Regions from separate parts of the Homo sapiens genome. Here region 2 is linked to region 1. The links come from fine-mapping of genetic effects on gene expression. Tissue or cell type: whole blood. Region 1 holds a variant in brackets; the other region holds the start of a gene. All regions are shown on one strand. Distances are from middle to middle.

Evidence for each region. PIP is the estimated chance that this variant, and not a neighbour inherited with it, causes the effect.
Region 2: GALNT8 starts here. The variant in region 1 is fine-mapped to the expression of GALNT8 in whole blood (TOPMed, PIP above 0.99).

Annotation. Positions count from the first base shown.
Region 1 is chr12:4,659,996-4,668,241 of GRCh38, reverse strand. It overlaps NDUFA9 (NADH:ubiquinone oxidoreductase subunit A9), which reads right to left. Exons shown (of 11, transcript NM_005002.5): 6 at 5,607-5,709. Among named protein-coding and RNA genes, the nearest start is that of NDUFA9, 15 kb to the right of the region's middle. The variant C/GC (reference allele first, on the strand shown) is at 4,879.
Region 2 is chr12:4,716,534-4,724,533 of GRCh38, reverse strand. GALNT8 (polypeptide N-acetylgalactosaminyltransferase 8) reads right to left here and starts at 4,134. Exons shown (of 11, transcript NM_017417.2): 1 at 3,646-4,134. The coding sequence starts at 3,856. It overlaps GAU1 (GALNT8 antisense upstream 1), which reads left to right and starts at 4,432. Exons shown (of 4, transcript NR_110112.1): 1 at 4,432-4,669. RefSeq lists enhancers at 2,026-3,021, 3,022-4,017, 4,018-5,013.

The sequences.
Region 1 (8,246 bases):
CAAAGAAAAGAGGTCAAATGTCTAGACAACTAGTCTGCTCTGCAATGCTAAATGCATCGCTACGACCAAGACTGGACTCTAGCTGCACCCATTCTAAGGAGAAACATGGAACTCTTCCTCCTTATGATACTCATCTGTTGATATGGCAGATGAGCTGTCTATCTAGTTAATATCTAGATGAGTTCTGCTGCTGTATCAACAGATGAGTGATACAGCACAGATAACCCAGAAAAAGGGCCTGATGGAAATATTAGTTGATATATGGTGCTGGCACAATTATTCTGCTATTTGAAAAAAAGGTGAGATAATGTCTTAGTTCTCACCATAAACTAAAACAAATCCCAAGTAGTTTAAATGTTAGGTTAAAAAAGTTTTTTTTGTTTTGTTTGTTTGTTTTTCTTTTTTTTTTAAACCATTTAAGAGTAGAAATTAGGCCGGGCACAGTGGCTCATGCCTGTAATCCCAGCACTTTGGGAGGCCAAGATGGGCGGATCACAAGGTCAGGAGTTTGAGACCAGCCTGGCCAATGTGGTGAAACCCCATCTCTACTAAAAATACAAAAATTAGCTGGGCGTGGTGGCACACACCTGTAGTCCCAGCTACTTGGGAGGCTGAGGCCAGAGAATCGCTTGAACCTGGGAGGCAGAGGTTGCAGTGAGCCGAGATCACGCCACCGCACTCCAGCCTGGGTGTCAGAGTGCGACTCTGTCTCAAAAAAAAAAAAAAAAAGAGTAGAAATTATTCACAATAGTACAATAAAGAATAAAATACTTAAAAATAAACTTTATCAAAGTGGCAAAAGACACATATGCTGAAAACCACAAAACATTGCTGAAAGAAATTAAAGGCACAATTAAATGGAAAGGCATCCCAAGTTCATGGAATGGAAGACTTAATATTGTTAGGATGTTGCTATGGTTTAAATATGTTCCCTCCAAAGTTCAGATGTTGCCAATGTGATAGGAACTAAGAGATAATTAGGCCATGAGGGTGCTCCCTCATGAATAGGATTAAGGCCCTCATAAAGGAGGCTTCATGAAGCATTCAGCTAGCTTGCTCTTCTCCTCTTCTGCCATGTGGGGACATAGCATTTGTCCCTTTCACCCTTCCACCTTCCACCATGTGAGCACACAGCAAGAAGGCCCTCACCAGATGACAGCACCTGGATCTTGAGATTCCCAGCCTCCAGAACTGTTGGAAATAAATTTCTCTTCTTTATAAATTACTCAACGTTTGTTGTACCCCAAAATGGACTAAGACATATGTCAATTCTACCCAAAGCAATCTCAGATTTAATGCAATCCCTATCAAAATCCCAATGGCTTTTTATTTTTGCAAAAATATAGAAAACTCCATCCTAAAATTCATATGACATTTAAAGGGATTCCTTTAAATAGCCAAAACAATCTTGAAAAAGAACAAATTTTTGGAAGTCTCACACACTTTCTGATTTCAAAACTTACTACAAAGGCACAGTAATCAAAACAGTGTAGTGATCAAAACAGTGGCGTAAAGAAAAACATACAGAGCAATGGAATAGAGAAAAATAACTCTTGCATATATGGTCAAATGATTTCTGACAAAAGCACCAAGACCATTCAATGGGGAAAGATAATCTTTTCAACATACTGGATAACCACATGCAAAAGAATAAAATTGGACCCTTACCTCATACCATATACAAAAACTAAGTCAAAATGGATCAAAGACCTAAACCTAAGAGCTAAAACTCTAAAACTCTTAGACAAAAACAAAAGGAGAAAGCTTCATGGCATTGGACTTGGCAACGACTCCTTAGATACAATACTAAAAGCACAGGCAACAAAAGTAAAAATAGATAAGCCTGACTACATCAAAATTAAAACTTCTGTGCATCAAAGAACACAATTAACAGAGTGAAGAGACAAACTAAAAAATGAGAGAAAATTTTACAAATCACATATCTGATAAGTATTTAATGTTCTGAATAAATAAAAAAACTCCTACAACTCAATAACAAAAAATAAACAACCCAATTTTAAAAATTAGCCAAGGACATGAACAGACATTTCTCCAAATAATAAAGTAGCCAAAAAGCACATGAAAAGATGCTCAACATCACTAATCATTAGGAAAACATAAATCAAAACCACATTGTTGCCAGGCGTGGTGGCCCATGCCTATAATCCTAGAACTTTGGGAGGCTGGGGCAAAAAGACTGCTTGAGGCCAGGAGTTTGAGTCCAGCCCGGGCAAGAGAGCAAGACCTGTCTCTACAAAAATATATATATTTTTTAAGCCAGGTGTGGTGGTACACACCTCTAGTCCCACCTATGTAGGAAACTGAGGCAAGAGGATCCCCTGAGCCCAGGAGTTCAAGGCTGCAGTGAGCTGTGATTGTATCACTGCCTAGGTGACAGAGCAAGACCCAATCTCAAAAACAAAAACAAAAAAACCACACACAATGAAATACCACCTTAGAACTATTAGGATGGCTATTATAAAAAAAAAAAAAAACAGAAAATAACAAATATTGACAAAGATCTGGAGAAAGTGGAAACCTTGTGCACTGTTGGTGGCAATGTAAAATGGTGCAGCCACTGTGGAATACACTATGGTGGCTTGTCGAAAAAGTAAAAATAGATATACCATATGCTACAGAATTCCACTTCTCAGTACATACACCAAATAACTGAAATCAGGGATATTTCGTACATCCATGGTCATTGCAGCATTATTCACAATAGCCAAAAGTGGGAAGAAATCCAAGTATCCATTGATGGATGGCTTATTAAACAAAATGTGGTATAGACATATCACAGAATATTATTCAGCCTTCAGTAGGAAGGAAATCACATCACGTGGTACAACAGGAATGCACCTTGAGCATATTATGCTAAGTCAAATAAGCCAGCTACGAAAAGACAAATACTGTATGATTCCACTTATATGAGGTGGTCAAATTCATAGAAACCAAAAGCAGAATGGTAGTTGCCAGGGGCTGGGGGGAAGGAGGGAACAGAGAGTTGTTTAAGGGGTACAGAATTTCAGTTTTACAAGATGAAAAAGTTCTGGGGATTGGTTGTACAACAATGTAAATATCTTAATACTACTGAACTGTACTCTTACAAATAGTTAAAAGGGTCTTAATCTTGTCTTAGTCTCAAGACTCTAAACTCCAAAGTCGCATCCAAATATTATCTAAATCAGATATAGGTAAGACTCAAGGTGTGGGTCATCCTGAGGCAAAATTCCTAACTATGAACATGTGAAACCAGACAAGTTATGTGCTTCCAAAATACAGCCGTGAGACAGGCATAAGATAGACATTCCTATTCTAAAAGGAAGACGTAAGAAAGAAAGGGTAACAACTCCCAAGTAAGTCCAAAACTTAGCAAGGTAAATTCTATTAGATTTTAGAATCTAATAAAAACACACACACAATGAAACACCACCTATTAGGGTGGCTACTAAAAATCAATAATCTTCTTTGCCTAGATGCATTGCCTTCTAGATTCACAGAGGTGGTGGTCTCACCTTCAGGACCCACTGAAGCGGTAGTTCTAACTTCTAGGACCTACTGGGGCAGCAGCCCCACCCCAATAGCTCTCCTGGGCAGAGGGTCAACACCTCAAAGGTTCCAGGGGGCTGTAGCCCCAAGGATCAGGCAGCTGTACCTCCAAGACTCTGGGTGGTCCCACCTCCAAGGCCTCTGACAAAGGCCATGTGGTGTTTAAACTGAGGCAATGGCCCCATCCTTTGAAACCAAAGAGATAGTTCTAAACATCTCTGAACCCCTTTTGGGGTCATTCTTCCCTTTTCTTGAAGAATAGCTCAAATTCACAGCCAAATAGCTCTGTGGTCTGGTCCTGTAGGATATCAGAAGTCAGACAGGCTTCTTTCATTCTGCCCCTTCTAGTTCAAACTGGTGGTGACTTTGCTGATGTAATCTCATCTCTATTCCTGGCTTCTGCCAAGATAGCTTGTTAGTTGGTGAGTCGCATCCACAATCTCTTCATCAAATGGTTGTTCAGCCACACTCTTAGTGTTCTCTTCAAAACAAGCTTTCTCATTTTTTGCAATATGGATAAGCTGAGAATTTTCCAAATCTTCAGGTTCCGGTTCCTTTTTGCTTAACAAGTCCTTCTTCATTTCCTCTTTCTCTCTTTTTCTATTCTGTTGTAAGCAGTCGGGAGGAACCAAGGCATTTCTTCAATACTTTGTACTTAGAAATCTTCTCAGCTGAATAAACAATTTCATCACTCACAAGTTCTACCTTCCACTAGAACACACACAGATCAGCCAATTTCTTTGCCATTTTATTATATGGATCACCTTTCCTCCAGTTTCCAATGACATCTTACTCATTTCCATCTGAGACCTTACAAAAATCACCCTTAACGTCCATATTTCTACCAGGTACCTCAAAACTCTTCTAGCCTCTACCTTTACATAGTTCCAAAGGCACGTTCACATTTTTAGGTATTTGCTACAGCAGCACCCCACTTCTTGGTACCAAAATCTATTTTGGTCTGCTCAGGCTACCATAACAAAATACCATAGACTGGGTGGCTTGTACAATAAAAATGTATTTTCTCACAGTTCTGGAGGCTGGCAAATTCAAGATCAAAGTGCCAGCCAGTTTGGTTCCTGATAAGGGCTCTCTTCCTGGCTTGTAGACAGCAGATTTCTTGCTGTGTCCTCACATATGGCCTTTCCTCAGTATGTGCACACAGGGAGAGAGAGATCTCTCTTTTTGCCTCTTCTTATAAGGTCACCAATCCTACTGAATTACGACCTCACCCTTATGGCCTCATTTAACCTCAATTTCCTCCAAAAGTCCTAACTCCAAATAAATTCACAATGGTGTTAAGGCTTCAACATACGAATTATGAGGGGG[C/GC]GCAATTTAGCCCATAGCAGATGGGAAATTTTATACTATGTATATTTTGCCACAATTTTTTTTAAGTAGAAATTATTACAGATGTTAGGTGGACACAAGCAACAGGGGGAAAAACAAGATAGAAACATCTAAATTGGATAAACCAATATCCAATACAATGGAATATACACAATGGAATACTATTTAGCTATATAAAGAAATGAGCTATCAAGCTATGAAAAGAAATGAAAGAACCTTAAATGCATATTGCTAAGTGAAAGAAGTCCACCTAAAAAGGCTACATACTGCAATGATTCTAACCATATATGTAATATCCTGGAAAAGGCAAAACTATAGAGACAATAAAAAGATCAGTGGTTGTCTGGGGTTAGGGGTGGGTAGGAGGGTAAGAATCAATACATATAACACAGGGGATTTTAGGATAGAGAAACTATTCCATGTGATATTCGAATATTTGCCAAGGTCACAGAGTTAGCTGGGCCAAGACTTAAACTCAAGTCTCTGACTCCCAAGTTCATGCTCTTTCCATTAATCTAAGTTGCTTCTTTTGATATGGAATATAACAAAGACTACATTGACTATGAAAATATAAACTTAGGGGAGGAAAAGGCAACTGGGAAAGAAAAAATATATCCTTAGTCTGTCAATCAGAGAAAACTGTTAGCTTGAGCAGCTTCAACTTGGTTAATCAGTATCCCTCTCTTCTACCATTAAGAAAGAATACGTACTTGCAAAAGAATTAAGGAATCTATCCTCTCTTCCAAAGATGTCCGACGGCTTTACGATAATGGCTTCCGGAAATGCATCTCTCACTACTTTCTCTCCAACAGCCTAAACAATAACCAAACAAACCTGTTTTGAGTTTAGAGACAAGTGAATAAAGCATCCATTCTTTCCACTATTAAGACATGACTTGTATTTCAAAGGCGATATTTTCCTCCAGATAAAGGTAATCATGTAATTCATAAAACTCAGTTACACAGAACTTTTAAAAAATATAATCCACAAAAATGTCCTGCACCTTACAGATTGGGTTGGGTCTCTTCCAATTTTTTTATTTTAAGGGAAGCTTACATTGAAGAAGGAGAAAAATCAAAGTAGAATTTCTTCAGCCTCCATTTTTCCTTCTATTTACAGATTCTCTGGTTTGTGTCAACCATCTAGCAGCCTGTTAGAAAAAGGACAGTATGGTGGCAGCAGGCTGCAATAATGGAAGTGTCACCAGTACCTACATATCCAAAGGAGGTTGGGGATAGAGTCACTAATCCTCCTAATCTCAATTGCTGTACCATCCTTACTTGTTATCATCTACTAGCCTCCTAGGCAAGTCTTCTTGTTCGATGAAGATATCAGCACCTAATTCAGTCTTCCTTTCTACTTCCACCACCACTGGAGGTGACATGATGTCCAAGTGGGCTTGGACTTCTCAGGTTCTTGAGCTGCTCAACTCCAACGACCTCCTCTTCCTTCCACCTCTACCACTCTTAACTTGGTTACACCACCTACTGTATCAACATCTGGAATTGCTCTTCTTCTGAGGTATTAAATGAAGACATCCTGCTCTTGGATGTCCATTTCCTACAATTTCCAGCCTGCTTGTTCTTTGTTCATCTGCTCCTGGGATACCTGTTTCTCAACCTTCTCAAGAACTCTAGTGCACTGATTCTGCTTCCCCTGTATCAACTCTTCCGACTGTTCCTGTCCTTCCCTCTGAATTCCAGATTAGGTTCCATAGACCATCTTCTCATCACTCTCTTGCCAATATTGTAAACTACCTTGTCCCTTTGTCCTTTACTCTAGCCACCAGGCAAAATTCTAATCCTAGAAGAACTCCATTGGCCTCCCTTGGGCCATGCACTCCCACTGTCTTGAGCAGCTGGCAGGAAAATAAATCAATAAAAACCATGAATTGGTACCACTATAAATTCATGCCTCCAATTTTAACCAGGCCCTCAACATTTCCCAAAAACCGTGTTTTCCTCTAATTAACTTACTTTCCCATGAGACAATTTGAAACATTTTCTACTGTATTCAAATTTCAGACATCCCTTTCTTTTCTCTTCCTTCCAGTAAATGACTCTGCCTTCTAATAAAAGAGAAAATGTAAGACAGTAGAGGAAAAACCACCTCAAGTTCTCACCACTAAATCTACAAACCCCGGTATATAAAGCACAATTTTCTCCTCCTCTCTTACCTGATGGGAGGAACAGTGCCACTTTCAATGCTTTAGAGCTCATGTCCTTTCACTTTTTCAGGAACCTGTCCAATTTACTCTCTCTTCCACATCCTCAGCCTCACTCTTTTTACCAGCATCTCCCTACCAGCATGTAAACAATGTAGATCCTCTACCTTAAAAAAAAACATACCAACTCCACATCCCCCTCCAGCTTCTATCCTCTCAGTCTTTCATCTTCCTCTTGCCAGTCAAGCTACCTGAAAATGTACCTACCCTTACCATTCCCACTTCCTCAGTTCCAACTCACTCTTCACGCACCCGCATTCTGGATTCTGCTCCAACCACTGCACTCAATCTATTCTTGATAAGATCACCAATGACCTCCATGTCAGTAGATCCAAGGAGACTTTACAGTTAACATTTGCTTGACTTCTCAATGGCATTCATAAGTATTCACTTCCTCCTGTGAGACTGTCTGGCCATGGCTTCCCTAGCACTGTACTCTCCTGGTTTCCCTTCCGCCTTATCATGTCCTGCTTAGTCTTTCTGTTTGATTGGTTTGGGTTTCTGCAGGTGCCTCCTTCTCTACCAGATTACTAACCATTGGTATGTTCTGGGCCCAATCTGAAACTACCTTCTCAATCTTCAGCCATCTTATCCTCTCTCATCACTTAAATTAACAACAAATGCTGGTAACTCCCACATTTCTGTCTCCAACCCAGACCTCTCTTCTGACCTCCAGGATCAGAAACCCTATATACCAGTTACTTGGAAGATTGACACACATCTGAAATGCACCTGAAACGTGAGTCCAAAACTCAATCATCTTCCATTCTCTCAAGTAAAATAGTGCTCCTCAATCTTTGCTGCACTCAGAATTACCTAGACAGAGTTAAAAAATACTGGTGCTGAAGTTGCAACCCCAGAAATTGTTTTAATTGGTCTGGAGCGCAGCCTAGGCATCAGAATTTTTAAAAGCTCCCTCAGTGGTTTTAATGTGCAACTAAGGCTAAGACTCACTGCCCTACAGCCTAGTCCCTCCCAAGCATTTCCCATCTTATTCAACAGTACTATCATCTACCCAGTGGCTTCAGCCAGAGGGCTGGACATCTTTGACTCTTCTCTCTTCCTCACCATTGACACCTCCCATTCCCTTCCAGTCATGAAATTCTGATGATTTTATGAATGTTTG
Region 2 (8,000 bases), 56 kb before region 1:
TGAGCTCCTCTGCGTTCTTCCTTGGGGGGATATCTGATTTTCTCTTTCACTCATGGCTATCAGTGGGAGCTGGTTTGGACCTGGCCATCCTAAAGTCAATTTGAGGAAATGCACAATCCGGTAGTATGAATACAGTGTCACTAGGTTATCCCCATAACTTATACTGAAACTTTCCAAGCCCCAAAACAGACACATCCATTGACATTCCCCTAGTGGGGCTTTTATGAACCCTGAGGGAGGTTCCAGAAAACTGGCTTAGAGTCATTGATCCCTCCCTCAATAGGGATATAATTATTATTGTTTGCATTTGCTCTTGGTAGCTTACATGATTCAACTAAGTATCCTTATTGACTTCTGATTTTTTTTTTTTTTTTTTTTTTTTTTTGAGACGGAGTCTCGCTCTGTCACCCGGGCTGGAGTGCAGTGGCACGATCTCAGCTCACTGCAACCTCCACCTCCCAGATTCACGCCATTCTCCTGCCTCAGCTTCCCGAGTAGCTGGGACTACAGGCGCCCGCCACCACGCCCAGCTAATTTTTTGTATTTTTCTAGAGACGGGGTTTCACCGTGTTAGCCAGGATGGTCTCGATCTCCTGACCTCGTGATCCACCCGCCTCGGCCTTCCAAAGTGCTAGGATTACAGGCGTGAGCCACCGCGCCCGGCCGACTTCTGATTTTTTTAAATCTTCCTGGAATCCTGGAGGCAATGAGCAAACAGGATGAAGGGTAATTAAACAGGCTTTTAGTTATAGGAAGCTCTGTGGAAAAAAAAAAAAAAAAAAAGCATTGGTGATCTAGAAACAGGGCCCAGAAGACTTTTTGAGGTTCAACTCAGGTGGTAGTGAGTCTCTGACATCACAACATTTCAGAGCGAATAAAATGTGGGAGCACCAAGAATAACAAGAAAGATCTTTGCAAAAAAGGAAAGAGGAGTAAACCAGATGGCTCTGGCTGGCTCCTCATGGCACATTGTGTCCTAGCTGATGGAAAGAATAGCAGGGCTTTGGGTAGAACTCCTGCCATTTTACGGCTTGAGGAGGCTGAGCCAGTGTGATGAGCCTTGGGGATGGGTGAGACAGTCCTGGTGTGGTCTGGGTGCTCTGCCAAATAGTGAGGGTGGTGCTGGGGTCACCACCCTAGGTACACAGGCATCCTCCTGGTGAAGCTGCACCAAGCATATTTGCATGGGCAATGTCCGACCCACCCAGGTAAGCCAGGGCTTGTGGAGCTGATGATCTTCCCTCTGTTTCATCCACTCTCTTGCCCCGTATCACTCTTCCCTTCATCCCTGTCTGCCTGTCTTTTTCTCTCTCTTTCCTAGACACACCCACTCATTTATTCATCTATGGAATTTCGATGTATGAATAGAAATGAGTAGTGAATGAGACGTTCATGGAAACAGCACTTATGAAACTTGCTTTCCATAAAACTGTACCATAATAAAATATGATGAGTCTTATGAAGGAGGACGTGGAAGGTGCTATGGGTGCCTTAGGACTCCTCCTCTCTCCTTTTATTCTCTCCTTCTCTCCCATCACACTTTCCCTTCTTTTCTTCTTGTCTCCATACAAACTCTTTCACTCTCTCTCCCTGGACTCCCTCACTTCTCTGCTCCTTTCCTGTCCCAGCTCTTTTCTCCTCTCTCATCTCCCTTCTCACTCTCCTCGCTCTTTCCCTGATTTCTTCTCTCCCTTCCTTTTTCTCTTCCTGCCTTTCCTTCCACCCATCTCCCAGCCTCACCCTGAACCCTGACAATGCTCAGTTCTCATTTTAAAAGACACTTTCCCCAACTCCAGCCCCATGTGCACACACCTGGGCAGTCACATCCCTGCCCACACATAAAACACCTCCCTATGGGGTTCCAGCATTTGATCCCTGTTACCTGGGAGCAGGGGGAAATTGCTGCTTCCCTTGCTGAAGTTGGATGCACAGGCACATAAAATTCAGAGGCATTAGACTTCCATGGTGAGCCGGAATCACAAACAAACCCCAGAATGTGTTGAAATCTTACCCTTAAGTTTAAATGAGGAGGTTAAAATTTGGCACAGAGCAGTTTATAGATCACCTTCTGCATCTACTTCACAACCCTATTAGGTCAGGTTGATAACTATCACTATTGTTATCATCATCTCCATTTACAGACCAGGAACCTGAGGCTGAGAGAGAGAAGCACTTGCTCAAAGTCACACAACCACAATGGCACATCAGGATTCGATCTTAGGTCCTCTAACAAAGCCCTCATTAGTTCATGAAAGGAGCACACCGCAAAATGGAAGCGAGGCCCTTGCCCCAGAGATTGCCACCTCTCTTCAACAGCCCCTACCACACATAGGCGTGGGGAAAGGAAAGAGAGATCAGATTGTTACTGTGTCTGTGTAGAAAGAACTAGACATAGGAGACTCCATTTTGTTCTGTACTAAGAAAAATTCTTCTGCCTTGAGATGCTGTTAATCTGTAACCGTACCCCCAACCCCGTGCTCCCTGAAACATGTGCTGTGTCGACTCAGGGTTAAATGGATTAAGGGCTATGCAAGATGTGCTTTGTTAAACAGATGCTTGAAGGCAGCATGCTCGTTAAGAGTCATCACCACTCCCTAATCTCAAGTACCCAGGGACACAAAACACTGCGGAAGGCCACAGGGACCTCTGCCTAGGAAAGCCAGGTATTGTCCAAGGTTTCTCCCCATGTGACCATCTGAAATATGGCCTCGTGGGAAGGGAAAGACCTGACTGTCCCCCAGCCCGACACCCGTAAAGGGTCTGTGCTGAGGAGGATTAGTAAAAGAGGAAGGAACGCCTTTCTGCAGTTGAGACAAGAGGAAGGCATCTGTCTCCTGCCCGTCCCTGGGCAATGGAATGTCTCGGTGTAAAACCCGATTGTATATTCCATCTACTGAGATAGGAGAAAACCGCCTTAGGGCTGGAGGTGGGACATGCGGGCAGCAATACTGCTGTTTAAGGCATTGAGATGTTTATGTGTATGCATATCTAAAGCACAGCACTTAATTCTTTACCTTGTCTATGATGCAGAGACCTTTGTTCACGTGTTTATCTGCTGACCTTCTCTCCACTATTATCCTATGACCCTGACACATCCCCCTCTCCGAGAAACACCCAAGAATGATCAATAAATACTAAGGGAACTCAGAGGCTGGCGGGATCCTCCGTATGCTGAACGCTGGTCCCCTGGGCCCCCTTATTTCTCTCTACATACTTTGTTTCTGTGTCTTTTTCTCTTCCAAAGTCTCTCGTTCCACCTAACGAGAAACACCCACAGGTGTGGAGGTGCAACCCACCCCTTCAATAGGCCTAAGGACAGGTCTATGGCCCTTGGGATTCTTATTCTTCTCGTTGCCTGCACATATGTAGATATAATGATAATGCATGTGCACAAGCCCACACACGCATACACACACACATGCTCACCTCCCCCATACTGCTTGCTCTAATTTCCACTTCTACTCACTTCATTCTCAATACCCATCTCCCATTTGAAGGCACAGAATTCAGTGTCAGATGCTTCAATGAGCGACTGAGATGAAAATGTGACCTCTCACCCATTTTTCCTTCCATATCCCTTTTTCCTAAGTGCCCCAAACACACACACCCACACACACACCTTCCAGGTTAGCATTGTAAACTTACTCAGATCCTGCAATTCCACCTCCAAGTGGGAGAGTCTCTTTATCACTGCCCCGTAGCGTTTATTCAGATGTAAAGGAAGCTCCCTGTGGAGACCACCCGTAAACAGGTTTTGTAAAGTCCCCTTGCTAGAAAATACCAGAAGGAGATTGACAGCAATGGCCAGAGTCAGCCCAATGAAGAGGGCTTTGGGGAGTTTCCTCCAAAACATCATCTTCTTCCTGGGGGTCGTCCACTCCCTGTGGGACTGAGTGTGTCACTGCTGGAGCAGGTTAAGAATCAGAACCAGCCTAGCTTTTGTGGGAAAGAGAGTTCTAGGTGCCAGTTGAGTTGGTCTCCCCTGTGTGAGACACCCATGGGAAGCCACGGGTGGCCTCTGAGGAGCAAAGTCTCCTTATTGCCTTCTTTGTCTTTATGCCCCGAGAGGATAACCGCTCAGCGGCTTTCCACAGGTTGCTCAGCGGCTTTCCACAGGTTGCTCAGGGAGATAACACTCCCTTGAAGCAGAGGAGTATAATCAAACATCTTGGCTCCTCCTGAAACCCACTCCCACCCATTTCAGTCATTAAAGATCTTAAGTAGTTTAGACACACGCCTTTGCTCAAGGAAATTCACAGAAACCGCCACTGTTACACATCTTATCGAATGACTCACTGATTAATCCTTTTCCTCATCCCTTCCTCCCCTTCCCATCTGCCCTAAGAACAAAGAGCTTGTAAACCAATAAATTGGGTGGAGCCCAGAGCTCTGGGCCGTGAGCAAGCCTCCAACGCTCTGGTCCCCTGGACCTGCCTTTTAAACGCTTGTTCTGTCTCTTTCTAACTCCTTTGTCTCCGCCGGACTCGGGGTATCCGCTGGGTGGTGTGGGGCTGGTTTCCCCAACAGCTTTCTCTCCACCCAGCTTCATAGATGACACCCTGCCTGCTAGGCCAGATGTTCTCCGGCCAAGAACACTATTATAGCTGCCTGGCTTCTCCCTGAGCAGCGTCAGGTGTGAGGAGTGCGCATGGCAGCTGCCCAGTGACAGGTAAGTCACCTGGACACACCTTGTACTGTCTCAGAAGTCAGAAGAATGCTTGCTCCTGCAGCTAGCTCAGGCTGCCTGGGTGAGAGGCTTTTCTCTATATATGTTTGTTTGATGTTTAATGTTCTCTCTCCCTGGAAAAACCACCTGGGAGACTCTGATAGGGCATGTGAGGTCTGGTCCTGTGGGTATAAGAAGGGGATAAATAGGATGAAGAAGAAATCACGAAGCAAGAAGTCTCTGTACACTTAGATCCTTGCTTTTTTGGAGAGCTGGGATCTAAGATGTCTTTTTACCTAACTCTACAGGGTTTTGGACATAGTAGGTGTGCAACAAATGCTTGTCCCACAAACTTAAGGACAGACTTTCTTGCTAGTTCCTAGGACTTCACTGCCTAGAAGCAGGTGGAGAAGAGCTGGAGGCGGTGCCCGGGGTTGAGCCTCAGGGGATGACTCCGATTCACTGGTCTCTGTCCTTTGCTTGTCCTCTGCACAACTTCATACACTGGGCTTCTGCCCTGCCCCAGCTTCCAGTAACTCCTTTGCCTCCACACCTCACACTTATAATATGTTTTGGACAAATCACCAGTGATCATCATTGTAGAATAAACACATAAAATTGTTCCCCAAGGCTAAAAGTTCAAAGTTCTCAGTCTACTGTCAATCCCGTCAAAATCACAGCTTCCACCCCGGCCTGGCTCTTTGGACTATTTACTACGTCCCAAACACAGCACATGGTGACATGTGCTGAGGCGGACATGTGGATTAAAGGAAAGTAATGTGGCTTTAGGAAAAACAGGATGAAAATGAACAAAATGAAAAGGAATCACTTCTTCTGTTTCGCAGGGATAGAAAATGTCTCCCAGCCTCCCACTTGCAAATTAGACTCAAAACATAAGAAACGCATGATCCAGCCAGGCGCAGTGGCTCACGCCTGTAATCCCAGCACTTTGGGAGGCCGAGGCAGGTGGATCACCTGAGGTCAGGAGTTCAAGACCAGCCTGGCCAACATGGTGAAACGCCATCTCTACTAAAAATAACAAAATTAGCTGGGCATGGTGGCAGGCACCTGTAATCCGAGCGACTTGGGAGGCAGAGGCAGGAAAATCGCTTGAACCCAGGAGGCGGAGGTTGCAGTGAGTCGAGATCGCGCCACTGCACTCCAGCCTGGGCAACAAGAACAAAACTCCATCTCAAACAACAACAACAACAACTACAAAAAACAAACAAACAAAAAAGCATAACCCTTCTGCTTCTGGGACAAGAAGAAATACCTACATTTATCTTCTCTATTCCTTCCCATCAAGGCAAGTAAAAAGTACACATGATATGTAAAACAAACCTAAGAAGACTCTGAAAGGTAGAGAGAACAGGGCAGGCTGACTAGAGATCTCCAGATATCCTAGCTATTGTAGGAAATAGATTCCAAGTTGCTGGATGCTGGAGCAGTCAACAACTTGGAAATGCAATGGGCAGAGACAATAGAAGCCCCAAGAAAAAGCTGCTTTCTCTAACCAAAGAAACAGGAAATGGGAAGCCTAGCAAGACAGAAGATGTTTAGACAACAACTGCCCTACTCCAGCCAAATGCCACTGAAAACCTTGCAGTGCCATGCCCACCACATCCACAGAGGCCTCGTGGGGAGCCTAGACTTCCAACCTCACCCCAGCTGTGAGGGTTTGCCCCTGCATCCCCCACCTTCCCCTCCAGGGTGTGTCAGTGAAGGTCTCTTGGGGAGCTGGCATTTTTGTCATTGTCCCCACATGATATCAGTAAAGGAACAGTGGCCCTCCCCTTTTCAGCCAGTGTGGTGTCAGCAGAGGGCTAGTGGGGAACCTGAACTCCCTCCCTCACCCATCAGTAATGAGGCAGCCCTCCCCACCAGGTGTCAGTGGAGGCCAAGCATGGAACCTGGGCTTCCTCTCCCACCTGGCAGCGATGAGATGAAATCTCCCTCTCCCCACCAGAACAGTGTATGAAAGGCCTGCTAAAACAGATTTACATAGGATCCAGAGTCTCAAAAAGTTATATTCAGAATGGCCAAGATGCAATAGAAAATCACTTGTCATATCAACAACCAGGAAAATCTCAACTTGGAAGAGCCTATCAACAGACAGCAACACCAGCCGGGCATGGTGGCTCATGCCTGCAATCACAGCACTTTGGGAGGCTGAGGCAGGAGGAGGATGGCTTGATTCCCAGGAGTTTGAGAGCAGCTTGGGCAACATACTGAGACCCTGTTTCTACTAAAAAATAAACTTTTTTTTAAATTGGCATGGCATGGTGGCTCACACCTGTAATCCCAGCACTTTGGGAGGCTGAGGCAGGCAGATCACTTGAGCCCAGGAGTTCAAGACCAGCCTGAGCAACACGGTAAAACCCCATCTCTACAAAAAATTTAAAAAAATCAGCCAGGCATGGTGGCACATGCCTGTGGCCCAAACTACCCAGGATGCTAAGGTGGGAGGATCACCTGAGCCCAGGAGGTTGAAGCTGCAGCGAGCCATGATCGTGCCATTGCACTCCAGCCTGGGTGACAGAGTGAGACTGTGTCTCAAAAAAAAAAAAAAATTAAAGCAGACACAAACACCAAGATGACACAGATGCTGGAATTGTCTGACAAGGATTTAAAAGCAGCCATAGTAACATTGCTTGAACGACTGATTATGAACATGCTTGAAACGAATGAAGAAACAGCAAGGAAATCAGATGTTTTAGCAAAGATATAGAAATCTCAGGAAAGAAATTGAAGACATAAAAAAGAAACAAATGGAAATTTTATAAGTGAAAAATACAATAAACAAAATTTAAAAATCACTGGGTAGGCCTCAACTGTAGAATAAGGACAGAGAAAAGAATCAGTGAACTTGAAGATGGAATAATAGAAAATGCTCAATCTGAAAAACAGAGAGAAAGTAGACTAAAAAAAAATTAAACCTCAAAGGCCGGTGAGATTACAACAACAGATCTAATATTCATGTCATCGGAGCCTTAGAAGGAAAAGACAAAATGTGGGGCTAAATAAGAATGTAAAGAAATAAGGGCTGGCTGGGCACGGTGGCTCAGGCCTGTGATCCCAACACTTTGGGAGGCTGAGGCAGGTGGATCACCTAAAGTCAGGAGTTCGAGACTGTGGGGCCACAGCCTGACCAACATGGTGAAACCCCATCTCTACTAAAATTACAAAAAATTAGCTGGCCGTGGTGGTGCACACCTGTAATCCCAGCTATGGGAGGCTGAAGCAGGGGAATCACTTGAACCCAGGAGGTGGAGGTTGCAATGAGCTGAGATCGCGCCACTGCACTCCAACCTGGGCAAGAAAATCAAAACTCTGT